3 separate regions of the Homo sapiens genome follow, and regions 2 and 3 are each reported to be linked to region 1. Evidence: microRNA targets listed by miRTarBase, many of them from high-throughput screens and not tested one by one. Region 1 holds a microRNA gene; each other region holds the end of a gene's coding sequence. Distances are from middle to middle.

Region 1 (4,243 bases):
AAGTATTGATAAGTAGACTTTCTTTCCCCCAGTAACCCTTCATTTTTTTTAAATAAAAAAGTAACATTCTTTAGAGCAGTTTTGTAGTTACGAAACAGGAACTTTTATAATGAATTTGATTAGATGTGACGGAAGGAAATGCAAGTATTTTTCAGAACGATGTAGATAACACATTAAGGCATCATCTTCTGTCATTTAAGAATTATGAGAATAAAGAGAACTGGAGTCGGGAATGTGGTTAGACTCTCCTCTGGAGGGATAGCTGACGCACGGAAAGCACTGCTCCTCCACTTGGCTCTTGCCCCTGTCCAGCTCCTGTCGCTTGGCCAAGGCCCTGAGCTGAGGAGGGCCTCAGGCTTGCTCACCTCCTGCCTTTCCAATCCTTAACTTTGAAGCCTTGCATTTTCCAGATATCTGAGTTTACACTGAGCAGTGGTGCCCTCGGCAACCTTAGGGTGCTCCATCTCACCTTCCAGCTTCTCCAGCAACAGCCTCTGCTCCAAAATAAATGAGGTGTTCAGTGTTGCTTTCTGGGCAGGAATCAGATGTTCTTTCTTTCAGTTAAACTCCAGAGCTCTGGCAGAGCTTGATTTGGTCCATTTTTCTCTAGGGCCGGCTTACCTGTTGGCATTTTTACAGAGACAAAATATGCTCCCAATTTATACTATTTTATTTACGAAAGAGCAAAGAGTAATACATTCTAAGAACTTTGATTAGCATACATATGGATCATTGCATATATTCCAAGTGTATATAAATACATAAAAAATACCCAATGGAGAATAATGCAAGACAGGAATGTAGAAAGTGATTTTATGCATGCTGCCTTTCTTAAGAGAACTTGTTACTTCTCATGGAAATTAAAATCTGGGGATTTGCTCAAGGGCAATTTTCCCCAAAGTCCCCAGATTATTTCCCTCCCTCCTTGGACTCATTTTAAACTAAAATTTCAGTCTTTTAAAAAGAAGATAGAAGAGGACAGAATTTATTTGACTACCTTGTTTGACTTGCTCTTTGTCATGGGTTTCAGACCTGTTTCTCAGGAGAGCTACGTCTGTTGGTTCAGAGTACATTTATCAATGCCTTGAAAATGCCCATTGGCCAGATTTGGTTGAATTGCCTCAGAAACAAATCTCTGTTTGTTAAGTAAACCATTAATTAAATATATGGCCCAGAACTTAATTCCTTTGGTTTACTACATCACATTTTCCTAAATAAGCAGATGTATTCTTTCAATTATAATATCCCAGAGGTCAACGGTACTCATCTTAAAACAAATAAAAAATAGGTTGTTAAGGTAAGAAATCAACCTTCAGCAAAAAATATGGTTTGGGGGCATACTGTGGCACCCCATTAATAGTGACCTTGTGAAGACCTTGTCGTTGAATATAAAATCAAAATGAAATCTAACGATGCCTCATTTTAATTCCTTAAGAGATCTTAAGGGGTGGCAGAATGACCACAGGCAAAATCCAATGCGCGTGTGAGAAAACCAAACACACAAACAACTCCTGACACTTTGGGGCAGTTTTTGGCCCTAATCACTTGAAAAGAGCTAGGCAATGTCTTCTTTTTAATTATTTATGCATGGCAGTGGGTTTCTTCTAATGATGGCCCAGGTGTATATTTTTCAGATCCTGAAGGTAGATCACCTGATTTGCTTACTTCTAAAGACAAAGTAAGCAAATCACACTTTGATTGTTTACTTTGCTTGTTAAATCCCTCTGAGTGGGATTTAACATAATAGTGTGGATTGAATCACACACACATTTCAACCCACACTATGATGTTAAATCCCATTCAGAAGTGGAGTGAGTGTTTGTGTGTAACTATGGGTATCTATATTTTTAGTTGTCCTTTTTTGCAAAAGATTGTCATCACCTAAATCCCTATAGGTGGAAGGCTCGGATCTAGGCTTTGTGAGATTTACATAGAAATTGCCACCTTCACAGGAAGTTCAATGAGAGGTACATGAAAGTATGTAAAAGCATTTTGTTAACTAGAGTCTTATAAGTTGGTTGGAGGCAATAGCTCATATAAATACTATGTACATCCTCTAATTGAGCTATATAGTATAGAGACTGTTAACTGCTATACCAGAATTTGGGGATAAGAGACAACTCTGGGAATTGAAGTGGACAGAGAGATACTCCCTGAGGAAATAAAAATATGAGCTGAACATGTAAGAAATGGATTAGATTTAAGTAGGTATGATGCCTTATTTTATGGCACAGTAAATTCTATCACCAAACAACACTCTTTATTTAAAACAACCTTCAAGCAAAGTATCCCACTAGGGCAAAAAATGAATGCAGTGACCAACTGGCATGAATATCTGATTTACTAAAAATTTAGATTCCTGTTAGTGGAAATTAAATGAACACATCAGCATTGTAAATTACCAGTCTATTTCATGTAAGCTTTAGTAGTATGGCTCTTTAAGTTGAATGCTATTAGGTGAAATGGAAAACTCAATGGCTAATTTAAAAGCCAAGGGCCTGCATCCTATCCGTCAAAGTATGATTCTCCATAGGCCTGAGTCAGCAGCAAGCTGGGTTTCACATCTCTTTATCTGCTCTAAAAACAATGGTATGAAGGGAAGCTTTTACAAGAAGGTCAGCTCTCTGTATGATGTTTCCAAGAGAGTACTCAATAGTTCGTGCAAGCATTTACCCTTTACTAAATGTTTTATTTAGCCTTTTAATAAATCTTTTACTGCTGAAATACAGGGTTTGGATTTGGTTGAAGGAGAAGTGGTGAAAGGTTTAGTTGGAGAAAGTTCTTTTATTAAATTTCTCCTCCTTCTGCCCACCGAGAGGAGCTGGGACTATCCCATACACAGTGGCTCAGTATCCCCTGTGGCAGAGCCTCTGAAGAGGTGATCAGAACAGTTAACCTGCCAAGACCTTGTTGCGTGGTCCTCTTTGATGTTTAATATAGCCAGACGCGGTTGTTCACGCCTGTAATCCCAGCACTCTGGGAGGCTGAGGTGGGTGGATCACCTGAGGTCAGGAGTTCGAGACCAGTGAAACCCTGTTTCTACTAAAAATACAAAAAATGATCCAGATGTGGTAGCAGGTCACTGTAATCCCAGCTAGTCGGGAGGCTGAGGCAGGAAAGTAGCTTGAACCCAGGAGGCAGAGGTTGCAGTAAGCCGAGATCGTGCCACTGCACTCCAGCCTGGGCAACAAGAGCAAAACTCCATCTCAAAAATAAAATAAAATAACATAAAATAATGTTTAATATATAGGGCTAGAATATCTATCCAAAGCTTTATGTTCATGTAGCTTATCAAGCCTTCAAAAGTGACACCCTTCTCTTGCTGCTGCGTGTCAGGACAACATAGAGTAGGAAAGGGTAAAGTGAAAGGGGGAAAAGACTGAAGTCTTCCCTGCTCAGAATAAGGAAAAAGGGTAAAGAGGAAAACATGAGCAAATATGGTGGCTTTTCGGGGGACATTTTTGAGATAAACATAGCAAAGGATAGTGCCTGAAGATGCAGTCGAGGTCTTGAAAGACCATCTGTGGGCCAAGAGTTTAAAGAAAAGGCATTTAACAGTGTAAGAAGGACAGCTGCAGTGGCTCACACTTGTAATCCCAGCACTTTGGGAGGCTGAGGTGGGAGGATCACTTGAGCCCAAGAGTTTGAGACCAGCCTGGGCAACATAGTGAGACCCCATCTCTACAAAAAACAGAAGAAATTAGCTGGGCATGGTGGCACACACCTGTAGTGTTAGCTACTTGGGGATGCTGAGTTGGGAGGATCACTTGAGCCCAGGAGGTCGAGGCTGCAGGGGGCCATGTTCATGCCACTGCACTCCAGCCTGGGTGATAGAGTGAGACCCTCCCTCAAAAAAAATTTTTTTTTTAAAGTGGAAGAAACGTGTTTGGGATTCAATCAAACCCAAATGGGAGAAGTTGAGAACTAGGCTTTAAATGAGACATCATTTTGGTTTCCCAGACAGGGCCTGTAACTAAGGATAAAGAACAGGAAAGTAGAATCAGGACTGTGCCCCTGGTGTGCCGAGAATCACCCTTCAGGTCTGGAAGAGGGAAGAACCAAGGTCACTGGGAACCGGGTGTGCTGTTCTGGGCAGCTAGGCATCCAGCCATGACTGAACAACACAGGCACCGTGCAAAGAGGAAATGCGTAGGTGCTGATTCTGTCGTCACTTACGAATGATCCATCTCCACCTCACCCTTTGAAATGATGCAGTGGAGTTTTGAAATGATGCAGTGGAGGA
Region 2 (4,243 bases), not on the chromosome of region 1:
CAAAGTTATGTGTTTCATGAAAAAGGACAGATTGGTTGCTGCCACAAAAAGAGTTTCTCTAAATTTTTGCTTCCCTCAGATGCATGGTGTGACAAATGTAGCCTTTTTTTTTTTTAAGACAGAGTCTCGCTCTGTCGCCCAGGCTGGAGTGCAGTGGCGAGATCTCGGCTCACTCCAACCTCCACTTCCCTGGTTCAAGCAATTTCCCTCTCTCAGCCTCCTGAGTAGCTGGGATTACAGGTGCATGCCACCACGCCCAGCTAATTTTTTTGTATTATTAGTAGAGACGGTTGGCCAGACTGGTCTCAAACCAGGTTTCACCTGGTTGGCCAGACTGGTCTCAAACTCCTGACCTCAGGCAATCCACCCACCTTGGCCTCCCAAAGTGCTGGGATTACAGATGTGAGCCACAGCGCCTGGCCGCCTTTTTTACTTGCTTTTATAAACACCATTAATTTAAAGGCCAGTAACTTATTTCAGCTGCCCTACAGGCAATGAATATCCTTACTTGGACTACTGTAGACTTGGCTTCTTATAAAAACAATAATCTTTTTGGACAGAAGAAAACAAAGTATTTGGCTAATTAATTAATTAATTTGGCATTCTCAAACCTAGAGGCCATTACATTAAGAACTAGTTTGTAGTTGTTACATTTCTTTGTTTTGTCTCAGTGGATCCAGGGCTGGAATCGCCCCCATAGTGGCAGCAGGGGAGACCCCATCAGGGAGTGATCCAAACTATCTCGAGATAGGGCCGGCTGGGATTTCAAAGAAAGAAGCTCTAAGCGCCAGGGTGATCAATCCAAAGCATTTATTAGAGGAACTTCCTTACAGAGTGCTGCAGCAATGGTTGAGAGAGAAAAGGGGTGTTCTGCCCAGGTATATCAGCAGTGAGGGAGTTTCTATGACAGTTAAAGGAATTTGGCTCAGGGCCAGAGCCAGTTTCTTTTTTCTTTTTCTTTTTTTTTTTTTTTTTTTTTGAGACAGAGTCTTGCTGTCACCCAGGCTGGAGTGCAATGAGAGTCTTGCTGTGACCCAGGCTGGAGTGCAATGGCATGATTTTGGCTCACTGCAACCTCCGCCTCCTGGGCTTAAGCAATTCTCCTGCTTCAGCTTCCCGACTAACTGAGATTACAGGCACCCGCCACCATGCCCAGCTAATTTTTTTGTATTTTTTTTTTTTTTTTTAGTTGAGACGGGGTTTCACCATGTTGGCCAGGCTGGTCTTGAATGCCTGATCTCAGGTGATCCACCCGCCTCGGCCTCCCAAAGTGTTGGGATTACAGGCGTGAGCCACTGCGCCCGGCCCAGTGCCAGTTTCTTTTAGTGTTTTAGGGAACAACCTAGACAGATTTATCAGTGCCTGGGAATGTTCAAGGCCCGGTTTGGGTTCAAGCCTGCTAGGAAAAATCTGCAGCTGGCTAGGTGACAAAGGTCAAGGCACTCTGTGACTTTTGGTCAGGATACAGAAAGCAGGGGCAACTGGCAACTCTACACTTGTGAATAAGAAAATGTTCATTCTCTTCTTCTCTGGGATTTCCTAAATGATTGCTGGCACCTAGAGTATGAGAACCCTGCGTCGAACAATTTAATAATCAAATTGGTAGCTAGGTTGCAGTCAGCTTAATAGTTCACCTCTGAGGCCTCTTGGCTAATGTATATATTGGTAACTTTAATAAGAGTGGAGAGATCTGCAGGCAGCATCTTGCTCAAGTCACCAAAGTTAACCTCACCAGTGAGAAGACAACTGAGCATGTACCTCACCTGACTGGCTGCTGTGGGCAGCATCACACCTGACCTGAATCCCTTCACAGACCCAGCAGAGGGCTGTGTACAGAGCAGGTGCTCAGAAAAATCCATGCTGAAGTGAATTAAAAAATAAACAAGATCTTTGGTTTATTATCGGTTACAAAGAAAGAGGAGGTGTGGAAAGCTACTTCCACTGAGATAGCTTTCCTAACTGTTAGGTAGGAAAATGCCAGGGCTCCCACTGGAGGGCAAAGTAGAATCCAGAACACACCCATATTCTTGGTCCATTTCCCAAAGGTCCACGCCTGAGAGATTTCAAGCTGAGTAAAGGAACAAGTCTTCTGAAGATGCAGATTTTGGTTTTATTTCAATTCAGTACAGCATACACTAGTATAACATACTTTTTTTTTTTTTTTTCAAAATCACCAACCAAAACCCATCACTGATACTTTGATTGTCTAGGAAAGAAGGAGCCCCAGCCTTGTCACATACAATCTCTGTCCCTGGTGCAATGTCATCCTCACTGTGCTGTGAAAGGCAAGGCTCTCTCCTCACCCTAATAGCTCCTGTTTCCAGTGCTTGCCTGTCTTTCTTCCCAAGCGTTGGCCGGGCTGTGCTTTCTCAGTTAACCCAAAGGCTCTTGCAGGCCTTTTCCTCTCGGAAGTCCCCTCCCTCTCCCGAGAGAGAGAGCTGCTTTTTTTTCCTTTTTTTTTTTTTTTTTTTTGAGATCGAGTTTTGCTCTGTTGCCCAGTGCAGTGGCATGATCTCGGCTCACTGCAACCTCCACCTCCCAGGTTCAAGCGATTCTCCTGCTTCAGCCTCCCAAGTAGCTGGGACTACAGGTGCGTGCTACCACACCCAGCTAATTTTTTATGTAGAGACGGGGTTTCACCGTGTTAGCCAGGATGGTCTCGATCTCCTGACCTCGTGATCCGCCTGCCTCGGCCTTCCAAAGTGCTGGGATTACAGGCGTGAGCCACCGTGCCCGGCCTCAACTTTTTATTTATTAGCTTGTTGGTCTTCAACCTCTGTAAGCCTCAGTTTCCTCACTTATCAATCATCTACTGCTGTATAGAGACAGGTCCATCTCCTAGCATGCAGGGTGAGGCTAATGTGACATTTGAAAACTCCAGAGTGCTGCTGACAGTGGTTGGAGGTGAAGGAGGAGGAAATAAAAGCAATGTGAGAATAGCTTTAAAGAAAGGAAGGGCAAAAAGTTGAAAAGAAAGAGGCAGTGTGGAGAGATGGAGCCAACAGCAGCATGGGAGTCCCTGGCTAGGGTCAGGGCTTAGATGACGACATTGTTGGTTGGGTTCACTTGCCCTCTGAACTGCACAGGGAATCGAGCTGGTCATTAGACATGGCCTGGAGCCAGTCACTGGAAAAGGAAATCAATACCCAGACTGATTCTCAGAACAGCCACCATTTGTATGATTTTAATCCATAGAATCATTCTGAAAGCTTCTTAATCTTCACCTTTTTTCTGGACAGGAGACAGGTGGCTGAGCCTAGCCCTGGACTGGATCATATCTTCACACTTCCTTAAGCCACAGAAAACTTGAACCAGGTGGTGTGGTCATACTCCTCACCAGGCCTCAGCAGCACAGGAGGGAAGCGGGGCTGTGAAGGGGAAACAACACAGGTGATGCTTGACACCGCAGGCTGCAACATTAACCATTTGGGTGTGCTTCTGGACGGGCTTCTAGACCAGTGCTCTGTGGATGGCTGCCAGTGCGGGAACTGTTTATGATTGGTTCATAGTGAGATAAAGAACTTTAATCAGAGTGAAAAAAGCACACTTTGTTAAAGGAAGGCTTTCCTGATGAAGGGAAGCAGTGTGTTGATCTATAATCTGGTGTAAGGTGTAGGCTTTTTTTTTTTTTTTTTGAGATGGAGTCTTGCTCTGTTGCCCAGGCTGGAGTGCAGTGGGGCGATCTCAGCTCACTGCAAACCCCGCTTCCTGGGTTCAAGCGATTCTCCTGCCTCAGCCTCCAGAGTAGCTGGGATCACAGGCACCTGCCACCATGCCCAGATAATTTTTTTATTTTTACTAGAGACAGGGTTTTGTCATGTTGACCGGGCTGGTCTCGAACTCCTGACCTCAAGTGATACACCTGCCTCAGACTCTCAAAGTGCTGGGATTACAGGTGTGAGCCACCGCACCTGGCCCTTTTTTTTTTTTTTTTTTAAAGACAGGGTCTCATTCTGTTGCACAGGCTGGAGTGCAGTGGTGTGATCATGGCTCACTGCAGCCTTGACCTCCCAGGCTCAGGGATCCTCCCACCTCAGCCTCCCAAGTAGCTGGGGCCACAGGTGTGCACTACCACACCTGGCTAATTTTTCTAATAATCTGTAAAGATGGGGTCTCCCTGTGTTGCCCAGGTTAGCCTCAATCTCAGGCTCAAGCAATCCTCCCGCCTCAGCCTCCCAAAGTGCTGGGATTACAGGCATGAGCCACCTTGCCCAGCCCAAGGTGCAAGCTTCTTATTGTGGGC
Region 3 (4,243 bases), 74 Mb from region 1:
TTTTATGAGGTGTGGAAGTCAGTGACTTGGTGACGTTCTTCCTAGCAGTGTTAATACATGCAAGAAGTAAGAGCATTTGTGGCTTGAACTTGCCAGATGCAAATACCACAGACTCCAAGAAAACCCGAGTTGGGGTTTGTTTTGTTTTGATTTTTTTTTTTTAAAGCGGGTAAAAGAGAAAACACTGAAAATTGAATTCTTATCTTCCAGAGGCTACAATTATTATAATGGACAATACTTTTACCTTTGTCTCTAAAGATCAGATTAGTTTTATTTGTTCACTTACGTGCTTTGATTATCCCCTCTGAATTATAGACCGAGTCTTGTTGTTTAGCCTAAGAGAAGATTTATGTAGTAATTTCTTCTCAGGTATGGAACCACGGTCATAACTAACATGTTGGCCAGAATAGAACCACTGGTTAAACATATTTTATTCACCATTAAGTGATCTTTATCAATATTCTGGATTAGACAACAAATTACCTTTCTGGGTGTTTCTTGTAAACTATACTCCTGTTTGAATGTTAAACTTTGTTGCTAAAGTTTAATTTTAAGATGTTTGAATGTTCAGTTTATGTATTTGAACTACAATAAACCAACCCTTTTTATATATCTGTATTGTATATGATTATTGTTACTTAATTTTTAAGAGCTTATTTTAACCTGTTTTTAAAAGCAGCAAATAGAATTTCCCACAAAGTAAGTTGACTCTAAATCTTAAGTATTACCTAGTTTTTAAAGGTTTGAATATAATAATGCAGTATTTGCAGTATAAAAAGGAAGGAATTTGTAGAGAATCATTTTGGTGCTCAAGTCTCTTAGCAGTGCCTTATTGCCTCATAGCAAGAAGATGCTGGGGTTTTTTTTGTTTTTGTCCTTTGTATTAATGTATGATGGTTTGCGCCTTTTTGGCATTCTTTCAACATGTCGTGTACATCACACCATGAATCAGTTCCTAATTGATATATCTAGCTTTACCTCCCGAGTTAAAAAAAAATCTTTTTATTTTATGCCTTCATAGGTTGCTCGTTTCAGAGTGCCACATAAATAAAATGTTTAACAAAATATATATGTTAATAGAATAATTTATTTTCCATTATCTCATACCGACTATGATTGTAACAAATCCTAGAAAGAAGGAATACCAACAGATCTGTATTTGTATGTTGTGTGCATACAGTCACAGACACACACATTCACATCCATGTTATATAGTTCATAGCTTAAATCTATTAAGTGCCATGGAAATTTTGTGAACTCTTTATGTAGGAACCTGGCATTGATCAGACTAAGGTCTTCAGCTGTAAAGTTGATAAACAGGATATGTTTTTTCTTTTTATGCGTACAAAGGATCTTACTCTGTCTCCTAGGCTGGGGTGCAGTGGTGCCATCATAGCTCACTGTAACTTTGAACTCCTGGTTTCAGTGATCCTTCTGAGTAGCTGAGACTGCAGGCATGCATTACCATGTCTGGCTTTTTTTTTTTTCTTTTTAAAATTTTTTTGGAAATGGTTTCACTCTGTTGCCCAGGCTGGCCTCAAACTCCTAGCCTCAAGCCATTCTCCCACCTCGGCCACCCAAAGTGCTAGGATTACAGGCGTCAACCGCCACACCTGGCCGCCTTCTGTTTCCTTTTTTTTCTTTCTTTGAAGTTCATTTTATAAGTTCATTGAGTGATTTTTAAGTACTGTGAGGAATGAAATTGAAGTGCTTGCCAAAAGGAGCACAACTATTATGTAGTATGTAGAAATACGACTGTCTCACAAGGGTAAAGTTTCCAGAATGCCTTATTTTGTTATTCTGAATTCCACATAATATTGTTTGCCCACTTACTACGTTGTTTCTCACAGTAGAGAAGTGAGAAGAAAACAGTTTGGTGATATCTGTTCTAATTTCCTACTTTTGTCTTAAAGTATCTGGGTTTGATCAGATAAGATACAAATCAAACTTCTCTAAGCAGATTTTTTAAGGGATCAAGTCGGGACTTAACTTTGTGTATCAGGTTCTTAATGAAAGGTTCATTGTAATTACTCTTTGTTCCAGTGTCTGCATCTTGATTTGGTGCTTGTTAGCAAACTCTGAAAATCAGTTCACCTTGAGACCTGTTCCAGTGTTAAGGTCAAACAGCCCCATAAAGCTCCATTGTTCCTAATAATGATTTTGGAATGATAATTCAAGACAAAGACAGCTTTAAATCTCCAAAAACTATCGGAAGTAAAGCGTAATTATTTTTATTTCTTTACAAGTTTAAAGTGTCAAACCCTGGAAGCTTACATCCTAAATTTACTACATATAATGAACATAAAAATTATTTATTCAAATAATCACAGACAATGATAATCCTTTTTATAACTACCATATCACAAGACAATATTTTGGATTCTTGGGTTAAATTTTACTTTATTTGAATACATGAGCTTCAAATAAAATTTGTAATGAAGGATGTAAAAAGAATACAGCCCTACCTCCTGTGTTAAAAAGCAAACTATGACCACTTATGAAAAAGCAAAGAATCCGGAAACCCATAGACAAAAAGCAAAATCTTTTTTTTTCCATAACATATCCTTTATATTTCAGATTCTCCATGGCTTGGTTTGCCCTAAAGGCATTTCTATTCTGAGGGAAACTTTCAGTGAAAATACCCGAGTTCCATAACAAAGTAATCAAGAATCATGGGTGAATGTCATTATACTTAAAAGGGGCAGAAATATATCATAATCATGTTTTATTGGGTATGTTTTACCTTGCTATAAAATGAATGGTTATTGCCTGTTACTCAGATTTTACCGTATGTCTGGGTACACAGTTTTACTGCTTTCTGCATTGCCCTTATGCTTTTTATTTTGTATTCTTAACCAAATTCTGTCTTGGTTTGTTGAATTTTCTCTTTTTGATATTAATCTCTTTCTCAGGTTGCTAGATTATTTTTATAACTTAGCCTATAGTATTTTAAAAGTTGAGTAGGGTTCAAGTTCAATGTTCTGAGTAAGGGTAAGTTTAGTACCATTAACAAGAAAGATCACCATCTCCATCTTCTATTTGTATTTGAGGAGTAATCTATACCTATATCATTAACCATGGTTTATCTTGGGAGAAAGGAGATATTAGGAGGAACACATTTCTGCTTATAGAAAAATAACTTTCCCACATTTTGGAAGTGAAGAGAGGACATTTTTTTAAGTATTTTTTCCCCCATATCAGACTACTGAATGTCATTGGAAAGCTGCTACAATTCTTAGACTTAGAAACTGAAGACTCATTCAGGTAGCTTTAAAAAGTTCACTGAAGCAGGCTTTAGTTTAAGTTTGAATTTATTTAAACTTGGCCAGAACCAGCCATGGCTTGAAATGAGTCCAGAATTGGAATAAGGTGCTGTTTCTTTTTCTTTGACCTTCAGTCATGAACATTATGATACGGACTTTTCATCAAGTAAATTAACACTTATTAAGTAAATGAAGAACGCATTAAAATTTATCATTAATGTGTTAAAAATCTCAAGTGAAAGTAGATTTTGAGCTTTGGTTATGTGAAATACAATTTAGTAGGTAAAATTAGGACTAGCAGGTCCTGGGTGAAACTGAAGGTAAAGGGGCTCAGCTTTGACAGAACCTCTACTGCAGGCTCCAGCCGGTCCACTACAGGGCTGGTCCTAGGGGGTACCCAGTAAAACCACTGTGAACAAATGACAGAATAGCCAGGCTGTCTAATCACTTTGACAGCAACATCTTTACACAACACTTAAATTGTTTGGGAAGCCAAGTTCTAATTCTGAAACAATTATTACTTCTAACATGGTTCTCTACTTACCACATTGCACATTTGGAAAGTGTAGATTGTGAAATATTTTTATAATTCCTAATGGTAATAATTATATCAGTTTGTAAAGTCAGCAATATTGATAAGCAGCAGTACAAGTAAATACAATAATCACAGTTTGTTTTGCTTTGAAACTTAAATCTATTTAACACCTTCCCCTGTCTCTTGATCTTCATGTTCCCAGGGGATAGGGTCATTGTCCTGTACAGAAGGGACTGTGTCCCTCTCATGCCAAAACTGCTCTACGTCAGGAAGGATGGGAATCTCTGCCTTCTCAGTTTTCCCTTTGCCAGAGGAGGGAGAGCTGGGTTTCTCTTTTTCTGGTATGGATGCTGGGGATTCTGGAGATGGAACCTTGTCAGGAAGACCCTCTGAGTTGCCAGCTGGTGTTTCCTGAGACTCTGAGACAGTTGGAGGTTTTTTGGTT

Evidence for each region. Region 1 holds the annotated microRNA hsa-miR-4803 (UAACAUAAUAGUGUGGAUUGA, at 1,737-1,757, shown strand). A microRNA usually pairs through its seed, bases 2 to 8, with sites in the 3' UTR of a target mRNA and lowers its output. Matches are read on the target gene's strand: a 7mer-m8 pairs with bases 2 to 8, a 7mer-A1 pairs with bases 2 to 7 and ends in A, and an 8mer does both.
Region 2: the mRNA of GALM is a reported target of hsa-miR-4803. Seed matches in the 3' UTR shown: 7mer-A1 at 2,142-2,148.
Region 3: miRTarBase lists GPR151 as a target of hsa-miR-4803. Seed matches in the 3' UTR shown: 7mer-A1 at 2,556-2,562 and 7mer-m8 at 2,299-2,305.

What each region holds. Positions count from the first base shown.
Region 1 is chr5:72,167,740-72,171,982 of GRCh38, forward strand. It overlaps MIR4803 (microRNA 4803), which reads left to right and starts at 1,728; the gene lies at 1,728-1,801. The region is part of intron 2 of MAP1B (microtubule associated protein 1B); the gene reads left to right.
Region 2 is chr2:38,732,613-38,736,855 of GRCh38, reverse strand. GALM (galactose mutarotase) reads right to left here. Exons shown (of 7, transcript NM_138801.3): 7 at 2,091-3,368. The coding sequence ends at 3,291. LOC124905993 (a long non-coding RNA gene) reads left to right here and starts at 3,306. Exons shown (of 3, transcript XR_007086292.1): 1 at 3,306-3,390.
Region 3 is chr5:146,510,897-146,515,139 of GRCh38, forward strand. It overlaps GPR151 (G protein-coupled receptor 151), which reads right to left. Exons shown (of 1, transcript NM_194251.3): 1 at 2,248-4,243. The coding sequence ends at 3,958. TCERG1 (transcription elongation regulator 1) reads left to right here. Exons shown (of 23, transcript NM_001382548.1): 23 at 1-1,065. Among named protein-coding and RNA genes, the nearest start is that of GPR151, 3.2 kb to the right of the region's middle.